Linked DNA regions of Homo sapiens: region 1 is linked to region 2. The links come from fine-mapping of genetic effects on gene expression. A gene starts in region 2. The other region holds a variant in brackets. All regions are shown on one strand. Distances are from middle to middle.

The links. PIP is the estimated chance that this variant, and not a neighbour inherited with it, causes the effect.
Region 1: its variant is fine-mapped to the expression of CENPQ in fibroblasts (GTEx, PIP above 0.99). The same link has a PIP of 0.9 or more in subcutaneous fat and tibial nerve.

The regions. Positions count from the first base shown.
Region 1 is chr6:49,488,081-49,503,260 of GRCh38, reverse strand. CENPQ (centromere protein Q) reads right to left here. Exons shown (of 9, transcript NM_018132.4): 7 at 14,790-14,909; 8 at 14,577-14,654; 9 at 10,154-11,117. The coding sequence ends at 10,986. GLYATL3 (glycine-N-acyltransferase like 3) reads right to left here and starts at 3,338. Exons shown (of 6, transcript NM_001010904.2): 1 at 3,219-3,338. The variant T/C (reference allele first, on the strand shown) is at 10,822.
Region 2 is chr6:49,459,289-49,469,147 of GRCh38, reverse strand. CENPQ (centromere protein Q) reads right to left here and starts at 5,778. Exons shown (of 9, transcript NM_018132.4): 1 at 5,695-5,778. It overlaps MMUT (methylmalonyl-CoA mutase), which reads left to right and starts at 5,895. Exons shown (of 13, transcript NM_000255.4): 1 at 5,895-6,045; 2 at 9,643-9,859. The coding sequence starts at 9,682. RefSeq lists enhancers at 4,912-5,811, 6,156-6,225, 5,812-6,712.

The sequences.
Region 1 (15,180 bases), 31 kb before region 2:
TTTCACACAGCCAAAAATATCACTATGGCAATCGTCAAAAGGTCAATTCAAAGATGGGACAGTAAAGATGATGAGGACTTATATCCCCCCCTTTGCTAATGTCCCCACACCACCTCTCATACAACCTATTCCCCCCACCATGCATTCACAAAAAGAGTACCATCCCAAAATAAATATACTATCTATATGGAGTCCAATAAAACTATACCACTTAAAAGTTGTGTTAAACCACCATATATGTTATTAGTAGGAAAGATGCATATTAGTTCAAAAACCAACATAATTACATGTGTTAGTTGTTACTTGTATGCTTGGATTGACTCATCCTTTAATCAATATCATAGTATTTTAGTAGTCAGAGCCAGAGAAGGTATTTGGCTTCCCGTAGCCTTACATAGGCCTTGGGAATCTTCCCCTTCTATCCATGTTATTAATAATATTCTACAGAAAATTATTAAAAGGAGTAAATTATTTATTTTTACATTAATTGCAGTAATAATGGTTTGATTGCTGTTACTGTGACTGCTGCTACTGCTGGAGTTGCATTACATCAATCTATTCAAACTGTTCATTTTGTGGATAAATGGCAAAAAGATTCTACTTGGATGTGGAATTCTCAGTCAGGTATTGATCAAAAATTGGCCAATCAAATTAATAACCTGACAAACTGTTATCTGGATGGGAGATAGAATTATAAGAATTATAAGTTTAGAACATAGATTTCAAATGCAATGTGATTGGAATACTTCTGATTTTCTATAAATCCGTTTCAATGTAATGAGTCTGTTCACAATTGGGAATCAGTAAAATGCCATTTACAAGGAAGTGAAGATAATTTAAGTTTAGACATAAGCAAGCTAAAAGCACAGATTTTTGAGGCCTGTCAAGCACACTTAACTGCTTTACCCAGTGCTGAAGTTTTAGACGGTGTATCTGAGGGGTTATCTAATCTCAACCCCATTCAATGGGTAAAATCCTTGGGAGGATCCACTATTGTTAATTTTGTTCTATGTATAATTTGTGCTATTGGTTTATTGTTCATATACAAAATTGGAAAAAATATTCTTCAATCCAATCATGATCAGTGCCAAGCTATGATTGCTATGGTTCATTTAAATCAGAGAAAAGGAGGAGATGTAGGGAGACCCCCTGAAACTATTGCTATGGAGTAAAAGATGAAATGCTCCTGATTATTGTAAATACAAAATTGCATGCAGGATTGTGTAAAGACAATGCCAGGTTGGACTGCCAGAATGAACCAATAGCACGTGATGTGCTTCCCCCTGCAGACAGCCTATGAATGGATGTGCATTCAGGGAGGTTTCACATCACCAAGATTCCTATCCCAGAAAAGCAGATGTTCATAGCTCTGGGAATGGAATGCGACCCTTGTGGATAGCCTATAAATGGACGAATGAGGGGTGCCTGTCCATATGGATAAGATAGGGCTATAACACGCTCATCTTGCCACAGCTCTTCTAGGCCTCTTTAGGGTTAAGACATATTTCCTTCTGAGGATTTCTGGTCTAACTAGTTGTCTAGCTTCACATCCTGTTTCTATGGATTGTTTGTAACCAGCTTTTGCTGCAACTGTTACTGCTGATTAATATCCTGCTAATCATAGGTTATGGAAAGACTGTGTTTCTGTTTTAAGGCTCTGTTAGAAATTACTGATGCACACACTATATTGTAAATTCTTATCTCTGTATACTGTACTTCTGCATACAGATATTATGTTAAAGAATTACTTCATCCCCATGTGACCATCTCACCTCATAATCAAATGACCCTAAATCCCTCACTAACCTACCGCTGCCCTCACTAAACTTAATAATAAATGCTGGTATAGTCAGTGCATTGGCGGCACCGCGGGACCTGCTTTCACTATCTTGTGTGAGTCTCTTATTTCTCGACCTGCCAATCCACCTAGGAACAAAGAGAGAGCCCCGTTGCATTGCGGGCTGCTGGCCAGCTCCCGCGATACACACCACCAACGCCTGGCTAGTTTTTTTTATATTTTTAGTAGAGATGGGGGGTTTCACCATGTTGGCTAGGCTGATCTCAAACTCCTGACCTCATGTGATCCACCTGCCTTGGCCCCCCAAAGTGCTGGGATTACAGGTGTGAGCCACCCTGCCTGGCCTCCAGCTTCTTAATAGCAAAACCTCTACTTAATTGGCTTCAACTTACCCTTCTAGACTATACTCATGCAACTCACAAATTACTCAGGGTGACAAACTAAAATCAGAGACATTCCCCCATGGGTTCATGCAGAGAGGACACTACAATTAATCTACATTTGACAATACCCTTTCAGTAAACAGTGATTCATTTCATAAGGATCTTTCATTAAATAGAAATTTTTTTAATGCCACAAGGTAGAGCAGAAATTCTCATTGATGCAGAAAATATTTTCTACACATTTTTGTAACATGTTAGAGAGTCATAATGACGATTAACTCTGAAAGCTACAAGAGCAGAATGTCATATCCTTACCACTTGATTAGTACTGTCCATAATCAGTATGTTCTGGAATTGGAAGTTAAAGGTTGGTAACTCCTTTAACCAAATTATAACCAATAGACTCACTGTTTGAAAGTATTTGTCAAGAAAAAGAATTATGCTCATGTAAGTTTTAGAAACTGAAGTTTCTTTGGGGGCATTTGAGTGTTTATAAGCACAGAGCAAGCATCTAAAATATTTTATTCATTAATATTTATCATAACAATGAAAGCATGACACTCTCCTGGGAGACTTTTAAGTCTTATAAGCAATAAAACATAAGATCTCTGTTTTTGTAATGTAATACAATATTTACAATATAATGGTGGGCATTTGTTAATGAGGAAATACATTTTTTTAAGCACTTGGAATCCAATGCTAGTAATTATTTTTCATATGTTAGGATTTTTGTTCAGAGAGGTTGCTCTAGTTGTGCCCATATCACAATGCAAACAAATTTATACTTGGTAATACTTATTTTCCTCACATCAAAATTTAAGAGTAAAAATTTTCCTCATATCAAAATTTAGGAGTTAAAAAAACCCCAAACAAAAACACGCCAAGAAACAAAACAAAATATATCTTTCCTTGAAACCTAATTACAATGTATTCGTTCTGTATAAGGTTGGATTTCATCTCTTCTCTATTTTTCCCATCCCTTTCTGCAATTATAAACTATGACTTGAAATGTATTATATTAATGAATAAATGTTTACCTGCTGGGAGTTCAGTCCAGAACTGAGGGTTTTCAGCTGTGTATCAGTCCAGTAGCCCTTTTATATAAATGGTAAGTTTATTCTTCAAGGCTACCTCTCTAATTAGCCCTTAGTGGAAACAGGAGGGAGAGAAAAAAAAAAAAGTGCCCACACCTGTAGACGGGGAGGAGTTTATGATGGTGATCAGGTGAAAATCATCTCACATAGAGCACAGGCATTTCCACTCCATCTCTTCCTTTTTATCACATTTAGCCTTATGGTGTAAAAGCCAATGAATACTAATCTTGATTTAGAGATAGGTATTTTCTAGCCATAAAACCTGTCTATTAATCAGTATCTCATGAAGGAGAATAAAAAGAAGAGGAGCCCAGGCAAATGGTAGTACGATAAGAAAGTAATATAAAGGTATTGACCCTTTAGTTATTTTTTTATATATTCTGAAGAAAATGATTTTGCTGCCCTAAACTTCCAAGGCTGAAAGGGGGTAATCTCTACAGAGGATACATAAGTACATGAGAGTAATTTCAAGAATTTTAATTACTTCAGCCTATTCTTTTAAATGAAAAGTCATTCAGAGTTTACTCACTTCTTTCAAAAGACTGCAATTTTAACCACCATGTAAGTATTTACTTGGACATCTCAGCACTCAATATCTACATCTTGAAATAATATGCAACACAAATGTCTCAACGGCATATGCAGAGTGCTTCAGTTTGAATGTGGTTAGATGGGAGGATTCTGTTTACCACATTTAGGTCTCATAAAATGGTAAGGTAGGGCATTCTTCACTAGAGGACACTGAGCTTTGTAATACAATGGGCAGCTAGTAGTTGACAGCAAATGGAGAAATTGTATTAGATGTCAATTACTAGATGTCAAAATAAGAGTTTTTGATCTTGCTGTATACATTGATAACTTCTTTTTTAAAAGATGTTACTGAGAACAAAGTATACCTACTCTTGGACCTAAGGAGCCTATATAAATATAGTTTTCTAAATATTAACTGAGTAAAATATATTTTTTAAAAGTTAAGCTTTTTTTTTATTTGCAAAACAGGAACTCCTTTAGACAGTAAGTGCAATATCCTAGGGGAAACTTTAAAAAGTTTGGGGTCTGGTTATTTATAAACTCTGAGACATGTAAAAGTCTCCCCAAATTTAGATTACGTCTTGTTTCCAAGTGCATTTAAAACAGAAATTTGAGCTCTTTGTTCTTTATAAAACATCAGAACTAATTGGAACTAATTTTTGCCTGAAGAAAAAAATAATAAAAAGGCAAAACATTCCTTTTCCTGGAAAGTATGGTTGAAGGTAATTAAATTTGAGATATGTATATATATTAGGCTAAGGCAAACTTTTAACTCTGAGATTAACGGAAAAAGGAGGAAAAAAGGAGATTCCCAATGTAAGATTAATTTAAAGGAATTGTCTTCTGAAAACCCAGGTGAACAAATCCGCAATACATATTATCACTTTACTCAGAAAAATACATCAGATTGTACTTTGCTGTAATAGGGGTTACTCATTAGATTCACTAGCCCCTTCTACTTGTAGTTTATCAGAAAACTCCTAAGAAAAGGTTCAATTATTTTTTCACTTCCTTGTTCTATCATTTACTATCTGTGTGATCTCAAGTTATTTAGCCTCCCTGTGCCGCAGTTTCTTCACCTGCAGGATGGAGATAATAATGAATGTTATGAGGTTTAATTCCCATAGGGTTTCCATTAAGATTAAACATTGGCATAAATACATGTATATAGGTAATGGCATTGGACTAGTACCTGGCATGTAGCAAGCACTCAATAAATGTCAGCCATTTTTCTCATTGCTATGACTGTCTTATATCCCTGTTGTACTATTTGAAAACTTACAGTAATTTTAAGGACAACTCTAGGGGGTAGAAATGGGGCAAAATTGGCTAAGGCACATTTATTTCTATTAGTTTAAAAATGTATACATATGTAACAAACCTGCACGTTGTGCACATGTACCCTAGAACTTAAAGTATTAAAAAAAATGAACAACTTAATTTTAAAAATGTGCTCTATTGTAGTTCTAATGAATTCAGAAAATGTCCCTCTTTTATCTTCTTCTTTGTCTAGTTTTAACAACTACTATATCCAATTTTGGAGATGGTTGCTAAAGCAACTTCACAGCCCTGATAAGAACAGAGGCTACTTTAATAAGACAGCAAACACCTAAGTCAAGAAAAATTGGTTCTATGGTGGCTTAGTTGTGAAGAAACACATTTAGTAACAACTCTTAACCAAAATTGCGAATTAGAAAACAAAAATAGCTCACTTTTTGACATAATAAAACCCAACTGAGAAATTAAAATTTCTCTCTGCTTTTGCTTGCCTTCTTTCCCTTCTCTCTCTCAAAGCTAAATATTTCTTAACAATGAATGAAACATGAGAGGATTTAGACTTATGTTTAGAAACTAAGCCAACCCGTATAACTCAAATACTAATTTTGACAGGTGCAACTGCATATTTTTGGTAAACAGGGAATGCCAAGAAATTCTATCCAACCAAATAAACAAAAGTAAATCCTTTAATTTTAGGTTCCAGTGCAGGTGGCTCGTATTTAAACAAAGCCTGTTTGTTGAACATATGCCCAACTGGGAGTTGGGGAAAATCAAAGGGCTCATATAAAGTAAGAATTTGAAGTGGCCGACATTACACTAAGGTTCTGCAACATATCTGTAAAGTCTGCCTCTCAAAACAGTTCTACCAATTCACCTTCCTTTAGCACAAGTACTCGGTGCCCATTTTTCAGTATGTTCAGCAATTTTCTTTCAGCTTTTTCCCGTCTTCGTCAATTTGATAGGTGAAAATATGTTTTAATTTGCATTTAAATGGTGAAGTTAAGGTTGATCATCTTTCAAATACTTATGGATGTTTTCCTTTGAGAATTGCCCATTTTCCTATTTGTATTTAACCTATTTGTTAATGATATTTCAGAGCTCTTTATTTAAAAAAGTTTTATTTCTTTGTTTTATTTATATTGTAGATATTTTCCTATTTGTGATGTGTCTTTGGCTTGATTTTGTTTTATTTTTATTTTTTATTTTTTGAGACAGTCTCACTCTGTTGCCCAAGCTGGAGTGCAGTGGCACGATCTCATCTCACTACAACCTCTGCCTCCCAGGGTCAAGCGATTCTCCTGCCCCAGCCTCCTGAGTAGCTGGGATTACAGGCATGCACCATCATGCCCGGCTAATTTTTGTATTTTTAGTAGAGACAGGGTTTCACCATGTTGGCCAGGCTGGTCTCGAACTCCTGACCTCAGGTGATCCACCCACCTCGGCCTCCCAAAGTGCTGGGATTACAGGCATGAACTGCCATGCCCGGCCGGTTTTGTATTTTTAAAAATCTTATTTCAAAAAGTTCAAAATATTATGTAATAATCTTTCATGATTTTACTTTTGCTTATATGCATAATAGGGCATTTGCTACCCTGACATCCACTGTTCATTTCTTTCTTTTTAGCTTCTATTTTTATATTTAACTTTATTTAGTGGGAATGTACTTAGGCATAAAGTAGGAATATTAAACATCCTCTCACCCTCCATTATGTAGTTAGCCAGTTTTATGAAGACCATTTATTAATAAATATTTTTCTGTATTTCATTTGAAATGCCATCTTTATCATATGCTACATTTTAATACAATATATCCTCTATCTCAAAAGTGTATTTTTTTTGTTATTGTTTAAGTTTCTGACATTGGCATTTATCAGTCACTAGAGAAGAGATGTATCATAGTTGGCATGGGCTGTGCATGGGAGAACTTAGATGGCTGAGGTCACTACAGAGGAGGACTGTTATTTGAATTATTGGGACCATGTATAGTCAAAGTTTATTTATTTCTTTATTTTTATTTTTTTGAGATGGAGTCTCACTCTGTCACCTAGGCTGGAGTGTAGTGTCACTATCTGGGCTAACTGCAATCTCTGCCTCCCGGGTTCACGCGAGTCTCCTGCCTCAGCCTCCTGATTAGAGGAGCCCGCCACTGCGCCCGGCTAATTTTGGTATTTTTAGTAGAGACGGGGTTTCACCATGTTGGCCAGGCTGGTCTCGAACTCCTGACCTCAGGTGATCTGCCCGCCTCAGCCTCCCAAAGTGCTGAGATTACAGGTGTGAGCCACTGCGCCCGGCAGTTTAATTTTATTTGGATCTTGTCTTGGGTCTCTTTAGTGTTGCCATAAAGGAATACCTGAGGCTGGGTATTTTATAAACAAAAGAGATTTATTTGGCTCATCGTTCTGTAGGCTGCACAAAAAGCACGGTGCCAGCATCTGCTTCTGGCCAGGGACTCAGGCTGCTTCTACTCATGGTGGAATGTGAAGGGGAGCTGGCATTTGCAGATCATGTGGTGAGAGAGAAAACAAGAAAGAGATGGGGAGATGCTAGGCTTTTTAACAAGCAGTTCTCATGGGAACCAAGAGAACTTATTTACTCCTGGGAGAATGTCACCAAGCCATTCATGGGGGATCTGTTCCCAAATTTCTCCCATCTGGCCCCACCTCCAATATTGGGCATCAAATTTCAACATAAGATTTGGTGGCATGAAAAACAAATCTCATGTCTTTCTTGCATTGCAAAATACAATTATTCCATCCCCCAAAGTCTTAACTTGTTCCAGCATCAACTCAAAAGTCTAAAGTCTCATTTGAGACTCAAGGCAAGTTCCTTACAACTGTGAACCTGTAAAATAAAAAAAGAAGTTATTTACTTCCAAGATACAGTGGTGGTGCAGACATTCCCATTCCAAAAGGGAGGAATAGGCCAGAAGAAAGGGGTAATAGGCCTCATGTGAGTCCCAAACCTATCAGGACAGATATTAAATATTAAAGCTCCAAAATAATCTGCTTTGACTCCATGTCCCGCATCCTAAGAACACTGGTTCAAGGGGTGGGTTCCAGAGCCTCAGGCATCCCCATCCCCATGGCTTTGCTGGGTGCAGCCCACGTAGCTGCTCTCGTGGGTTGGAATCCAATACCTGCAGCTCTTCCAGGCTGAGATTGTAAGCTGTTGGTGGCTCTACCATTCTGAGGTTGGAGAGTGGTGCCCCTGCTCCATCTGCTCCACTAGGCACTTCTCTAGTAGAGGCTCTCAGACCCTGTGGCAGCCTTCTTTCTGGGCACCCAGGCTTTCTAATACATCCTCTCAAATGTAAGTGGAAGCTGCCAAGTCTCCACTACTCTTGCATTCTGCATGCTTGCAGACTTAACACCACATGGAAGTCTCCAAGGCTTACTGGGTACACCTTCCAGAGCAGCAGCCTGAGGCCCTTTGAGCTGGTGCCGCTGGGGTGTGGGGAGCAGTATCACCTGCCCCATCAAAAAGCCATTCTTTCATTCTAAACTTCTTAATCTGTGATGGGAGGGGTGGCAAAGATTTCTGAAATAGCTTTGAGACATTTTTTCCATAGTCTTATTAGCACCTGGCCCTTTTTAGTCATGCTCATCTCTTTAGCAAACTATTGCTGCTGCTTGGTCATACTCTTAGATTCCTCTCCTAAAAACACTCTTCTTTCCTTCTCTAACACAAGGCAAGGCTGCACATTTTCCAATTTTCCTCTGGTCTCTACTGTAAGCAGTTAGAAGTAACCATGCAGCAGCCTGAGCACTTTGCTGGTTAGAAATTTCTTTTCCCAGATACCCTAGGCCATCTCTTAAATGAAGCCTTCCATAAAGCCCTAGAGCATGGACACAATGCAGACAAGTTCTTTGCTACGGTGTAACAAGTGTGACTTTTGCTTCAGTAACTTATAAGTTCATCATTTCCATCTAAGGCTTCCTCAGTATGACCTTTGCTGTCTCTTTTTCTATAAGCATTTTGGTACACAACTACTTAACCAATCTCTAAGAAGTTCTACACTTTCCCTTGTCTTCCCTGTTTTCTCCTGAACCCTCCAAACTCTTCCAACCTCTGCCTATTACCCAGTTCAAAAGCTACTCCCACATTTTCAGGCATCTTTAGAGCAATGCCTCACTCCTGAATACCAATTTTCTTAGTATGTTTAGTGTTGCTATAAAGGAATATTTAAGGCTGGGTAATTTATTAATGAAGAGATTTGGCTCATGTTTCTGCAGGCTGTACAAGAAGCATGGCACCAGCATCTATGGCACCACGCCATTCATGAGCGATCCACGCCATGATCTAAACAACTCCCACCAGGCCCCGCTTCCAATATTGGGGATCAAATTTCAACATGAGGTTGGTGGGGCCAAATAAACCCTAGGCAAACCATAACAGATCTGTAATTAATTCTTAAATTCTTTCCAAAGAGTACACCAAAATGCAGTCTTATTTAAAGAAAATACTGTGTATGTTTTGGATTGGATGCTACCTACCAGAAGATATTGTAGATCTCTTAAAGTTAGATTATAAACTCTTCAAAGCTACAAGAGTAGTATGGCCAGTTCACACAGGGTGAAGAACTGTATCACTCAGCAACAATGGTAAGTTAAAATCCCAGTTAACTATCAGTTATCTGTTAAACAGATGCCCTGAGAGAAATGGCATACATAATTCCTCCCCCACCACCAAAAGCTACTATAACATTAGTGTTAAAAATCACTGAGTTAGGGCTCTACTACTCATTCTAAAAACATGAAGCTTTAAGTTTCCAAGTGAAGGGTTTTTAAGACATTTTGTAATAATCTTTACTTTTAGTCACTTTGCCAGGTTTTTCTTTGAGATTTTATTTTCCTCCAAAATCTATTAATAGGCCTTCTTTACCATTATTCCTATGAGGATATTGCTTGTGACCCTTTTCTTGAGCTGCCCCAGGGTCCTCATGTGTGATCTCCTCACTACACTGAAAACCCAACTTGTTTAACTACAGGTTTGTTGCCAGTGGTCTCTGCCTGAAGGGTGTTAACAGAATTATGGCATCTCCCAAATTAACTGATATTATAGGTCACATAAAAAAGTAATTGCAGTCATTTTATTTTACAGACTAAAAAAAAAAAAAAAAACCCAAGACAGTATACTGTAGTTTGTTAGAAATAATTTTTTATACACTAGGTTATAACTTATTCACATATATAAGCTTATTATCATAATAAGAAAAGGTTTATATATTTTGGGTTTTCTTGTTTTAATAAAATAAATGTGCTAAGGTTCCTTTTTAATACTTTTTGGGAATATGTTTTGATGACAGTAGAAAATATTCAACATTAATTCACTAAACAACCAAAGAAGTAAAATTTTGATACTACCTCCAAAGTTAAAGATAGCAGGCATATCTTAACTACTTCCCAAAAAGACTAGGGAGTTAGGTAAAAGAGTGAAGGCATTTGAGGATTTTTCAAGTTCCAGATGACCAGACAGAAACTGTAAGCCATTGGCTACAGAATGAATGATAGCAAACACTAAGGTTTTTATGCACTAGACAGTGTATGTAAACACTTACTTATCACAGCTCCTGATATGAGCTGTTAACCAATAAATGAGTTCCATTCAGGCATTATAAACTACTAGATCCTTAAGGCAATTCCTATTTTATGGTTTTAGGCAAATACTTATAGATACAGCAATATAAATGTTAGTTTCCTAGATTTGGCAACTGCTAAAAACAGTCTTCAGAACTACA[T/C]TAGATGCTAATGATAGAACTACAAAGACTAATTTTAAAGTGCATATCAGGAGATAATAAATCCTGCAGAAGCCTTAGCCTCTGTACATATAATCATAGGTTAACAGTTTTACAAATTCACGAACATTAAATTAATATGGAACAATCTAAAAAAAAAACACTCTTTAAGATGCATCCAGTTTCTTATAGGCTTCTTCAATGAAGGTTGACATGCTCTTCATCTGTGATGAATTATGAAGAATATCCAAGTCCTTTAGAAGAGCATTCTGGTTTGGAATTAGCGCCAAAATTTCTTTCTGTGGGAAAGATAGTATTAAATGTAGTTGTTAACATTTTATTATGAGAAATCTCAAATGTATGTTAGAGAGAACAGTAAAATAAACCTTAAGTATCTATCATCCAACTTCAATAATTGTCAACGAATCGCCATTCTTCTTTCAAATCTATCTCTCCCTCTCCCCATCCTGCTCCTTTCACCACTGGTAAATGATAGGATTTGTTTGTTTGTTTGTTTTTGTTTTTTTGAGGTGGAGTTTTGCTCTTCTTGCCCAGGCTGGAGTACAATGGCGCAGTCCTGGCTCACTGCAACCTCCAGCTCCCAGGTTCAAGCAATTCTCCTGCCTCAGCCTCCCGAATAGCTGGGATTACAGGCATGTGCCACCACACCTGGCTAATTTTGTATTTTTAGTAGAGATGGGGTTTCTCCATGTTGGTCAGGCTGTTCTCGAACTCCTGACCTCAGGCAATCCGCCTGCCTTGGCCTCCCAAAGTGCTGGGATTACAGGTGTGAGCCACTGTGCCCAGCCAATAGGAAAATTTCAAATTACTTCTTGAGAAAACATGAAGACTTTCCAATGCTACAAACATTTATACTACAATGTCTACTAGAGCCCTTGGAAGAAATAGTTTACTACAAATAAGACAGTACTATTTTATAAGGAGTTATATGCTATTGTTAGAAGCATTAAAAAAACCAAACTGTCAGTATTTACTTCTAGAAATGTATCCTACAATTATGACTATACAAATCAGTAAAGACATATGTACAAGGGTGTACCCAGTCTTACCTGTATTAAAAAAATTATGTATTTCCATCAGTAATTTACAAATTATATGACCTCCATACAACAGAATGTTACATAGCTATCAACAAAAATGAGAGATCTACGTGACTGACAAGATGTTCAAACTATACAGTCGAATGAGAAAAGTAATTTGCCAAACAGTTTATATCAGGTTCCATTTGTTTAAAGAACGAAATAGGACATAATGTTTTCATATATGTAATGTATAATTGGTCTATGATATACCAGGATGCCTCATTTTACCGTGTTCCCAGACACTGCATTTTTTACAAACTGAAGGTTTGTGGCAACTCTGTGCAAAGGAGGTCTATCAGCACCATTTTTCCAAAAGCACATGCTCACTTTGTATCTCTACATCACATTTTGGTAATTCTTGTAATAGTTCAAACTTTAAAAATTATTACGGTATCTGTTATGGTGATCTATGCCCAGTGTTCTTTGATGGAACTGCTGTAATTGTTCTGGGTGCCATAACTGCAACCATATCAAACAGTGAACTGAATTGGTAATTGTTATGTGTTCTGACGGCTCCACCAACCGGCCATTTATTTCCCAGTTTCTCTCCCTCTCCTTGGGCCTCCCTATTCCCTGTGACACAACGATATTGAAATTAGGCCAGTTAATAATGCTACAATGGCCTCTAAGTGTTCAGGTGAAAAGAAGAATCATGTCTCTTACTTTAAATCAAAAACTAGAGATTACTAAGTTTAGTGAGGAAGGCCTATCAAAAGCCACGCAAACCAAAAGCTAGGCCTCTTGTGCCAAACGCCCAAGTTGTGAATGCAAAGGAAAAGTTCTTGAAGAAAATTTAAAGTGCTACTTCAGTGAATACATGAATAATGAGAAAGCAAAACAGCCTTATTGTTGATATGGGAAGTCTGAGTGGTCTGGATGGAAGATCAAACCAGCCACGACATTCCCTTAAACCAAATCCTAATCCACAGCAAGGCCCTAACTGTTTTCAAGTCTATGAAGGCTGACAGAGGTGAGGAAGTTGCAGAAGAAAAGTTTGAAGCTAGCAGAAGTTAGTTCATAAGGTTTAAGGAAAGAAGCTGTGTTTATAACATAAAAAGTGCAAGGTGAAGCAGCAAGTGCTGATAGAAAAATTACAGCTAGTTACCCAGAAGACCTAGCTAGCTAAGATCACTGGTGAAGGTGGCTATAGTAAACAACATATTTTCAATGTAAATAAAACAGCATTCTATTGGAAGAAGATGCTATCTCTAGGACTTTGATAGTTGGAAAAGAGAAGGCAATGCCTGGCTTCAAAGCTTTAAAGGAGATGCTTTTGTTAGGCTCTTGTTAGGGGCTAATGCAGCTGGTGACATGAAGTTGAAGCCAATGCTCACTGATCATTCTGAAAATCCCAGGGTCCTTAATTCTACTAAATCAACTACATCTGTGTTGTCTGTGCTCTGTAAATGGAACAACAAAGCCTGGATGACAGTACAACTGTTTAGAGCATGGCTTACTGAATATTTTAAGCCCACTGTTAAGAGCTACTGCTCAGAAAAGAAGATTCCTTTGAAAATATTACTGCTCATTGAAAATGTTCACAGTTACCCAAGAGCTCTGATGAAGATATACAAGGAGATTAATGTTGTTTTCACATCTGCTAACACATCTGTTCTGCAGCCTCTGAATCAAAGAGTCATTTCAATTTTCAAGTCTTATCACTTAAGAAATACATTTCATAAGGCTATAGCTGCCCTAGGTAGTGATTTCTCTGATGGATCTGGGCAAAATAAATTGTAAACATATTAAAATAAATTTATCATTCTAGATGTCAGTAAGAGCATTCATGATTCACAAGAGGAAGTCAAAATACCAATAACAGGAGTTTAGAAAAAATGGATTCAATTTTGAATCCTCATGGATGACTTTGAGAAGTTCAAGACTTTAGTGGAGGAAGTGACTGAAGATGTGGTGGAAACAGCAAGAGAACCAGAATTAGAAGTGGAGCCTGAAGATGTACCTGAATTGCTGCAATCTCATGATAAAAATTGGATGGACGAGGAGTTACTTCTTATGGATGAGCAAAGAAAGTGGTTTCTTGAGATGGAATCTATTCATGATGAAGATGTTATGAACATAGTTGAAATATCAATGAAGGATATAGTATATGACAAAAACTTAGCTGACAAAGCTGTGACAAGGAATGAGAGAACTGACTCCAATTTTGAAGGAGGTTCTACTGTGGGTAAAATGCTATGAAACAGCATCACATGCTACAGGGAAAACTTTCGTGAAAGGAAGAATCAACTGATGTGGCAAATTTCATTGTCTTCTTATTTTAAGAAATTGCCACATGCATCCCAACCTTCAGTAATCACCACGCTATCAGTCAGCAGCCATCAACATTGAGGCAAGACCCTCCACTGGCAAAAAGATTACGACCTGCTGAAGGTGCAGATGATTGTTAACATTTTTTAGCAGTAAAGCGTTTTCTAAATTAAGGTATGTCCCTTTAAAAAAAAAAAAAAGAAATAATGCTTTTTCACACTTACTAGACTACAGTATAGCGTAAACATAACTTCCATATGCCGTGGGAAACCAAAACATTTGTGTGACTTGCGTTATTGCAGTATTTGCTTTTTTGCTGTGGTCTGAATCCAAATTTGCAACATCTCTAAAGTATGCCTGTAATCAATATGGTAAATAGGCACTTACCTGAAGTGTGGGTGCTTTGAGAGTTTTCTGAGAAAGTTCCGGAAGAGAGAGTACTCCACTACTATTTATTTGATGCATCTAAAGTAGAAGAAAGCTACAGATTATTTCAAAAAGCTGATTTCTCTCATCATATTATACTCGAAAGTTATCTTTGCATAATTTAACCATTAAAAATTATATCCAAATTCCAATAATACAGTTTAAAATAATTACCTGTTTTACTCTCTCCTCTTCTTCTTCCACCTCACTTGCCAGAATCTGAATTTTGTTCTTTAGGCTCTGAATATTCCCAGTCATTAACTCTGTGGTCTCTACCATTTTATCTATTTCTTCCTGAGTCAGAAAGAGAAAAAAAACATTTTAACTTAAACACATTATTATATTAAATCCTAATAGATATTGTTATACATACACATTTTAAAAAAACACCATATATATTTAAAACATTTTTAGAAGCAACTGGTGAATTTACTTTTGTTTCTTTCAAAAAAGAGACTTCTTGGAAAGCTGGTATGTCAAGGTATTAATGTGTTATAAGGATATCTAATTTCCCTGGAATAAGGAGATGTACATGAACACTTCCTCAAAACGTACCAATGCTGGT
Region 2 (9,859 bases):
GACTGGAAAAAAAATTGGGAAAGAATTAACAGAAAGATCACAAACTACATTTAGCAACCACATATCACACCAGTTACAAAAAGCAGTGGAAGTCAAAATATCACTTTACCCTGCTCTTGAACAATGTGATACCTTACCAAACACTCATTCTCTATCTTGTGTTCAATTTCTAAAATGCCTAATTACCTCAACTTTACATCTACACCCTTATACTTCCCCTACTTAAAAACCCATCCACATGACAGAATTTCACTTGTAGATCTCTCCTGGAAGGGCTGACATGTACAATAGTTCAAGTTGTTCACTGAATAAGAGCATCCAGGTGAAGGGACAAGTAACAGCTGAGATTTTAGATTAAAAATGGTACACATTCCTTCTCATGATTGTTAATGAGCAGTAAGGTCTATGTTCCCTTGTCTTAAATCTTGGCAGACTCTGAAGCTGTTTGAGCAGTAGAATATAGTAGAAGTGATTCTGTTCTAGCTTACTGGCTTAGACATGAAGAGACTGGCAACTTTGACTTCTTCTTGCTTAGAAACACTTGCTTTTTTTTTAAGAAGTCTTGCACTGTCGCTTGGGCTGGAGTGCAGTGGTGCGATCTCGGCTCACTGCTGCAACCTCTGCCTCCCAGGTTTAAGCGATTCTCCTGCCTCAGCCTTCCAAGTAGCTGGGACTACAGGCACCCCCCACCACGCCCAGCTAATTTTCTGTATTTTTAGTAGAGACGGGGTTTCACCATGTTGTTCAGGCCGGTCTCGAACTCCTGACCTCAAGTGATCCTCCTGCCTCGGTCTCCCAAAGCGCTGAGATTACAGGCGTGAGCCACTGAGCCCGGCCAACACTTGCTCTTATAACCCAGCCACCACCATAGGAGGAAGGCCAACACCGAGAGGAACTGAAACCCCAGGAAAGTCTTAGCTGAGCTCCCAGCCAAGAGCCAGCACCAACTGGCCAGTCTGGTACATGTACCTAAGTCAATATGCTGCAGCCCACACTGTGTGGACAAGACATGAGCAAGCCCTGCCTAGTCCCTCCCAATCCCAAATTTTGGAACAAATTAATTGAGTAAAAAATTTACCCCAATACGTTCTGTGTAACATTCAAACTCTTTACCATGCCATTTTTAGTCCTTACCAACCTAACTCTGCCTACCTTTTCATACTTCTCTCCTACTACTCCTTAATCAAATCTCCCTCTCTAGCTAGATTTGATGATTTCCTGAACACACTTTGAGTAATTCTGCCTCCCAAACATACACTGTACCTTCTACCTGAGCAGCTCTCTTCTGTCTCTGCCCACCCTCTCAGATCATGAGCCACCTTCTTTTCAAAATCTTCCTAACTATTCTACTTCATTTCTCTCTAAGTCTGTGGCTCTTTTGCTCTGTCTCATTTGGTACTTATTTATAGCTTGGGTCCATTAATCATTTTCTTCTTGATATTCTTTATTAAAATAACATGTAATTTAGCGCTACTCCAAATCTCATTCAAACTGTTTGCCATAATCAAGTGTGGAAATTGAAGGTAATCATTTAGAAACTTTTGTAGCAATTTGATAGAGTAATTTTATGCACATTGAACCTTATCATAAAATAATTAGCCTTGTCTTTGCCATATCATTTTCTAGTAATTAGTATTTTTTTAAAAAAGACTTTTTTCAGAACAGTTTTAGGTTTACAGAAAATTGAGCAAAACATACAGAAACTTCTTATATAATCCCTGCCCTTCCCCATTCCCTGCAACCTCTAGTATTAACATCACACACCAAACTGGTACATTTGCTGTAATTGTTGACACATCATATTACCCAAAATCCATTGTTTACATCAGAGTTCACTCCTGGTATTATACCACAAGGGAGTTTGACTAATAATTGATTTTTAATTGCATTTTACAAAAGTATCAGTTATGACTGATTAGAAATAAAAAGCAAAACTGGTCTAACAGAGTTTGAGAAGTACTGTTAACAATGAAACCTACTTGAGGCACTAGACTATAGCACAAAGTTTCTCAACCTCAGCACTATTAACATTTTAGATGGATCATTCTTTGTTGTGGAGACTGTGGTGTGTATTGTAGGATGTTTAGCAGCATGCTTGGGTCTACGTAGACCGTCAGATGCTAGAATACTTCCAACCCCTGAGTAGAGCCAATCAAAATTGTTTCCAGACATTGCCAAATGTCTCCTGGGTCAAAATCAACCCAGGTTGAGAACACTACCATAATGGTTAAGAGCAGTCCTGCAACGAGGGTAAATTGTTCAAGCTCCAAATCTAGCCCTGCCACTTAATTAACTGTATATCTTTGGGCCAGTAAATTAACTCATTTTCCCCATTAGTAAAACGATTAATAAAAGTACTAACATTAAAGGCTTTTGTAAAGCAAAAATGATGTAACAAAGAATATATAAACCACCTAGAACGGTATTTGAGACATAGTAAGAATCCAATAAACAAAAGACATTGTTTCTATCACTTCTGGGCTACTCACAGTGCATATAAAAATGAATAGGTATTTTGTCCCATTCTTAGATCCAAGGGAAACCACAGCTTAGTGATAGTGCACAGGTAGAGACAGATATGAAAATAATTACTATGTGTATTTATAAATGTTATAAAGAGGCAAGTGAGCGAATGACTGTCTTAAACTGGTTTGTGCTATGGGTAAGAATGTACAGGCATAACTCTTTTTATTGTGTTTCACTTTATTGAGCCTCGCAGACACTGTATTTTGTTGTTGTTGTCTTACAAACTAAAGGTTTGTGGCAAGCCTGCACTGAACAACTATATTGATGCCATTTTTCCAACAGATTGTGCTCACTCTTCACATTTCTGTGTCATATTTTGATAACTCTCACAATATTTCAAACCTTTTCATTATTATATCTGTTATGGTGATTGATGTTACTCTGTAATTGTTTTAGGGCACCATGAACCATGCCAATATCAGACAGAGAACTTAATAGGTAAATGTTGCGTTGTGTTTTGACTGCTCCACCAACTGGCTGTTCCCTGCCTCTCTCCCTCTCCTTAGGCCTCCCTATTCCCTGAGACACAATGATATTGAAATTAGGCCATTTAATAACCCTACAATGGCCTCTAAGTGTTCAAGTGAAAGCAAAAATCACACCTCTCTCACTTTAAATTAAAAGCTAGAAATGTTTAAGCAAGGTGAGGTAGGCATGTCAAAAGCCAAGATAGGCTGGAAACTACACCAGTTAGCCAAGCTGTGAATGCAAAGGAAAAGTTCTTGAAGGAAATTTAAAGTGCTATTCCAGTGAAGACATGAATGATAAGAAAGCAAAAACAGCCTTATTACTGATAGGGAGAAAGTTTGAGTGGTCCGGGATTGAAGATCAAACTAGCCACAACACGCCCTTAAACCAAAGACGAATTCATGGCAAGGTCTTAACTCACTTCAATTCTATGAAAGCTGAGAGAGGTGAGAAAGCTGTAGCAAAAGAGCCTGAAGCTAGCAGAGCTTGGTTCCTGAGGTTTAAGGAAGTAAGCTATCTGCATAACATGAAAGTACAAAGTGAAGCAGCAAGTGCTGATGCAGAAGCTGCAGCAAGTTATCCAGTTCTAGGTAAGATAATTGATGAAGGGGCTACACTAAACAACAGATTTTCAATGAAGACAAAACAGCCTTCTATTGGAAGATGCTATCTAGGACTTTCATATCTAGAAAGAAGTCATTGCCTGGCTTCAAAGCTTCAAAAGACAGGCTGACTCTCTTGTAGGGGCTAATATGGGTGGTGACTTGAAGCCAATGCTCATTGACCATTCTGAAATATCCTAGGGCTCTTATTCTTTTAAATCTACTCTGTCTGTGCTCTGGAAATGGAAGAACAAAGCATGAGTGACAGCACATCTGTTTACAGCACGGTTTACTGAGTATTTTAAGCCCATCTTTGAGACCTACAGCTCACAAAAAGATTCCTTTCAAAATAATACTGCTCAATGACCACGTACTTGGTCACCCAAGAGCTCTGATAGAGATGTACAAGGAGATTAATGCTGTTTTCATGTCTGCTAACACAACATCCATTCTGCAGCCCATGAATCAAAGAATAATTTTGACTTTCAAGTTATATTATTTAAGAAATACATTTTGTAAAGCTATAGCTGCCCTAGACAGTGATTCCTCTGATGGATCTGGGCAAAATAAATTGAAAACTTCTGGAAATGATTCACCATCCCAAATGCTAGTAAGAACATTCATGATTCACGGGAGGAGGTCAAAATATCAACATTAACAGGAGTCTGGAAAAAGTTGATTCCAACCCTCATGGATGACTTTGTAAAGGTCATGACTTTGTTCAAGACTTCAGTGGAGGAAGTGATGAAAGATCTGGTGGCAATAGCAAGAGAAATAGTGGAGCCTGAAGATGTACCTGAATTGCTGCAATCTCATGATAAAACTAGTGGAAAAGAAGTTGCTTCTTATGAATGAGCGAAGTTCTTGAGATGGAATCTACCCCTGGTGAAGATGCTGTGAATATTCTTGAAATATCAACAAAGAATTCAGAATATCACAAAACCTTAGTTGCTAAAGCAATGGTAGGGGTTAAGAGGATTTACTCTAATTTTGAAAGAAGTTCTACAGTGGGTAAAATGCTTTCAAACAGCATCACATGCTACAGAGAAATCTTTAGTGAATGGAAGAGTCAACTGCTGTACAAAATTCATTATTTTGTTATTTTAAGAAACTGCCACAGCAACTCCAATCTTCAGCAACCATCACCCTGATTGGTCAACAGCCATCAACATCAAGCAAGACCCTCCACCAGCAAAAAGATTAGGACTTGCTGAAGGCTGAGATGATTAGTAGCATTTTTTAGCAATAAAATATTTTAAAATTACAGCATGTAATTTTTTTTTACACATAATGCTATTGCACACTTAATAGGTTACAATACAGTGTAAATACAACTGTTATATGCACTGGGAAACCAAAAAAATCGTGTGACAGGCTTTATTGGTCTGGAACCGACCCCGCAATATCTCGGAAGTATGTTTGTACATTATTCATAGAAAAAGTATTATTCTAATAACATTTTGAAATATTTAGCCAAAAAGTAGAAAAATGAAGCATCCAAGGGAAAACAGTAAAACTCGGACGGCAGGAAAGCTCGGAAAAAACACAAAAAACCTGGCGTGTTCAGGGACAGGATAATCCAGCGAGGCTTTTAATGTGTATAGGAGAAGTGAAAAGAAATAAGGCTGGTACAGTAGTTTGCCGCCAGACTATATGCTTTAGGAGAGAGGGAGGCATTCTAGGTTGTCTTGTTTTTCTTACCAGCTTGTTGATACTCATGGGACTCAATTACCTCAATTTAGACCTCTATGTGGGCACAAGAGTGAGTAGGACTCCTGGAGAAACACAGACACTAATGTCCAAGGCTGCACTTGACTTCACTAGTGCCCGCGGGAGAAATTTAGCAATGAGGATGAGCCATGAGGATGATTCGGGAGAAATAGGAAGTATTCATGGCTTTGCTCCCTCCCCCCTAATCAAACATCTCAATCTCAGGATCCTAAGGGCAGATCTTTTAGGACATCGGGCATTTCCCCGTAAGCAATCCCCCCTCGCTATCCTCAAATGCAAACTGCGGAGTCTGCCACAAACGCGTTGGCTTTAAAACTCATCCCTGAACTTTAGATCCACCCAGCCGGTTAAGGATATCACGACTCACCACTGATTCTTCTTGCACCCTTCTGAGAGCCGCGCTTAGAGTAATTCGCGCCCAAACATTCGTAAACAGAGGAGACCCGGAAGTGGGTGGGAAGAAAGCGGAAACGGGCATCTAACCCTACCCCTAAACGTCATCAGGAATGCGCCCATGAGAGCGCTATTAGATTGGCTGGAGGGAGGGCGGTGTCGGCCTACGCCCCCAGAGTCGTCCGGCTGACGCTGGCGGTGGCGCGGTTTGTGTGGGCTTGGTGAGGGCGGGGAGGCCTGGCTGTGTGGATGTCTGACAGGTGAGGCGGGGGACGCAGAAGTGCAGCCGCCCTCTCCCACAGCGGAGTCCAAAACAGGCCTACCAGTGAGTAGGACGTACACCTTTCAGATCGCTCCATTCTTCTGGCTCCTGTCCCTCCTCTACCCCTGTATTTTGAACTTTTGTCCTTTCTCTCCCGCTCTGTCCTTTACTTCTGTCTTCTTTACCTTCCTACTGTGACGGGATCCCACTCTCTGCCTTCTCCTTAGGTTTAGATTTTCACTTCGACCAACCTCTAGTTTTGGGCGAAGTCCCTGGCAATTCGGAGGTACTTCTGGAAAGAAGGTGCTTTTAATACTTTAGGGGCCATGTCGGTATCTTCTTTGGCCACTTAAGCACCCTGAACTGTTCCCGTTGGCAGAGGTCACTTTTTGTATGGTTCCAAAGGGATGCGCCTGCTTCATGGCTGCCTCCCTTCTAGGTTGTGGGTTATGTTATTGTCAGGGTTTTTCTAAGAGTTTTCGGGAATAAAAGTGATTTTCTGTGTGTAAACAGGATTAAGAGTGTAAACAGTGTTAAGAGTGAGAGGTAGAATAGAAAAGACAGGTCTAAATTGACATAAAAGCTTACATTACTAACTCGTTCTCAGTTTTATCTAGAAAGAAGGTGGTCTTAGGGAAGCTCGAAGCCCTGGATAACGTATGTGTGTAAAGTTTTAAACCACTTGATGATTTTCTGCCAATATAATTTTGTGTTTAATGATGTACTTATGCTAATATCAAATATAATTTTCATGCCCTATGTTTCCATCTCCAAACCCAACTAGTTGAACATCAAAGTACCTTCTTGAAGTATTAATGTGCAATCATACGTCAGCAGCCAAAGCTTGAAACTTATTGGTTCAAGAAATCTTTTTCTCACTGATTTGTTTTTGAGGTGTGGGGGTGGGATTAATCATTGCTCTTTAACTCATTTTAGTTGTCAGTAACATATTTGCTTTGCATGTTGCTTCTTTGAATGCTTGAGGCCTCTCTTGATGGTCTTCTGAGAAAATTCAGAGGTCGTATTGCCATCCGCAGTAGTTGTGTTTTTATCTAAAAATGGTGTCTGTTTCCAGCCTCCACCAATTCACATGTGATTTTCAGGAAGTCACTTAAACGGGGCTCTTTCCTATTAGTTGTTCAGATTTAGGAAAGCCCACGTGAAATGAGTGTGATATTTCCTGCCAACAGTTTAGTCTCAGGTGGTTTTCAAATTACCTTTTACAGGATTACTATTGAAACAGTTTAGTTGTTGCTTCATTATTTTTTTCATCCACCTTTTAAGCTAGTAAATGTAGTGGATGGCTTGCAAAAAGATGGATGACAAGGACCCCATGGATTTAAAGAATAAAAATCGTGCTAGTATTAAAAAAATGGAAGGTTTTTTTGTTTTGTTTTGAGACGGGGTCTCTCTCTGTTGCCCAGGTTGGAGTGCAGTGGCACGATCTCTGCTCACTGCAACCTCTGCTTCCCGGGTTGAAGTGATTCTCATGCCTCAGCCTCCTGAGTACCTGGGATTACTGGTGTGCGCCACCATGCCCAGCTAATTTTTGTATTTTTAGTAGAGACTGGGTTTCACCGTGTTGGCCAGGCTGGTCTTGAACCCCTGACCTCAGGTGATCCACCTGCCTCGGCCTCCTGAAGTGCTGGGATTCCAGGCGTGAACCACCATGCCCAGCCTTTTTTGTTATGTTTCCATTTAGACTTTGTTCTATGTACTTTTTACATAGTTGAACCTGTTGCACTTACAATTACGTGTCTTGAGTCTTTTACTTACTACTTTTTGAGTTTGTTTCTCTTTTTTTGGGAAACTATGCATAACACATTTTTAACTTTTTACTTATACATATATTTACAGAAACTGCATAAAACATAACTGTATAATTTGATGAATTTCCACAAACAGAATATATCTATGTAAGTGGCAATCAGATCAAGACCATTACCCCCAAAAGCCCCTCTCTTGCTCCTGTTGTATTCTAGCAACCATTAAGTAACCATTCTTCTGACTTCTGACATCAAAGATTAGTTTTGCCAGCTTTCTAAACATATTTTGATAACTACATGAAATTCTATCATTTGTATATGCTGTAATTCACTTATTCATATGTTATGAGATACTTACGATTTTCCTAAGTTTTCTCTATTACAAATAAAACTATAGGAAACATCTATTTTATATATTACTACAGAAGCTTTCCCAGGAGTAATGTTCCTCAGTGGAATGGCATAAACATTTCTGAAGCATTTCATGTATATTGACAATTTACTTTCCAAAGTAGTTAAAATAGTTAATACTGTCACCAGTGGTTTATGTCTCTTGTTTAACGACCCCATAATAAGTGTTGAGTATTGATTTCATTTAAGCTTTACTAAACTGATAGGTAAGAAGTGGTATGGAAAATAAAATTTGAAACTCCCTTTACTTGTTGCCTTATCCAGTATAAAACACATAGTATAGTGAATATATTAATGTTTGCATCTCAATATCTTTTTAAACAATGGGCTCTATATGTTTACGCTGTATGACTCTGACAAGTTTTAGTAATTCAGGTAAACAGTTTACGGCTTTGTGAGGTGGGATTTTGATCAAGCGACTTTATTTCTCTGAGCCTCAGTTTCTACATCTGGAAAATGATGACGCTGAACCCAGCAACCTAGTATAAAAGTCTATGCTAGTTATCCGGAATATGCAGCTCTAATGTTGGAGCAGTTTATAAACTAGCACAGAAGTAGATTATTGAAGAGGCCATTTAGCTCACCTTATGGGTTCTGGGATGAATTGTGTGCATATTAGTTAAATGCAAGGACTTTGAAACAGGCTGCATAGGTTCCAATCAATGCTGGCTCTTCTGTGCCTCAGTTTCCTAATCTGTAAAATAAGGATAATAATAGTACCTACCTCTTAGGGGTATTGTAAAGATTAAAATTGCTACTCTCTGTGATGTCTTTATAGCCTTCTATGTTACTGGCACATAGAAACGCTGCAAATTGGAGATAATGCCTTAGCTGAATTAGCCAGAGAAGAACATTTTAGGCAGAAGGAAGAGCAAGAGCAAATTCAGAAAACTTTGACATATGTGCAGCCAACTGTAGGTAATCCAGTATTTCTAGTGCACAAAATGCATAAAGAGGACAAAGACAGAGATGGGTCTGAGGGGGAAACAGAGACCAGTTCATGAAGGCCTTGAATGCCTGTTTGTCTTATTCATCACTTTTTTCTCTATTACCCAACATAATGTCGGTCATAAACTGATATTTAATAAAAGCACTTTGAATGAAAAAATTAATTAGGAGGCTGTAGTATATCTTCCACATGATACAGAGTCTTTGAAAAATTCCATGAGGAGTGTGACATAGTCATATTTACATTGATGTCATTGTATGGAAGGGATTCGTATAGAATGGAGTAGAAAAGGAGTAAGACTGGTCAGTAAGACCAGCTAAGAGGCTACTGAGGAAAAAGACTGAAACTACAGGACTGATAGTAATTGTGAAGAAGAGGGGCCAAAGTTATAAAATATCAGGTGCAGGAAGCAGAAAAGGGGAAGAAATGAAATCAGACTAATACATCCTCTTTCTTTTCTGTTCCTTTCTTATGAGTAGCTCCTATTTCCCACCCCCTCTTCTAAATGTTTTTACTCTATGTTTCTTTTTCTAGGTCAGTTCTTATTTCTATTGGGTGTTTCCATGCTCCACCATGTTAAGAGCTAAGAATCAGCTTTTTTTACTTTCACCTCATTACCTGAGGCAGGTAAAAGAATCATCAGGCTCCAGGCTCATACAGCAACGACTTCTACACCAGCAACAGCCCCTTCACCCAGAATGGGCTGCCCTGGCTAAAAAGCAGCTGAAAGGCAAAAACCCAGAAGACCTAA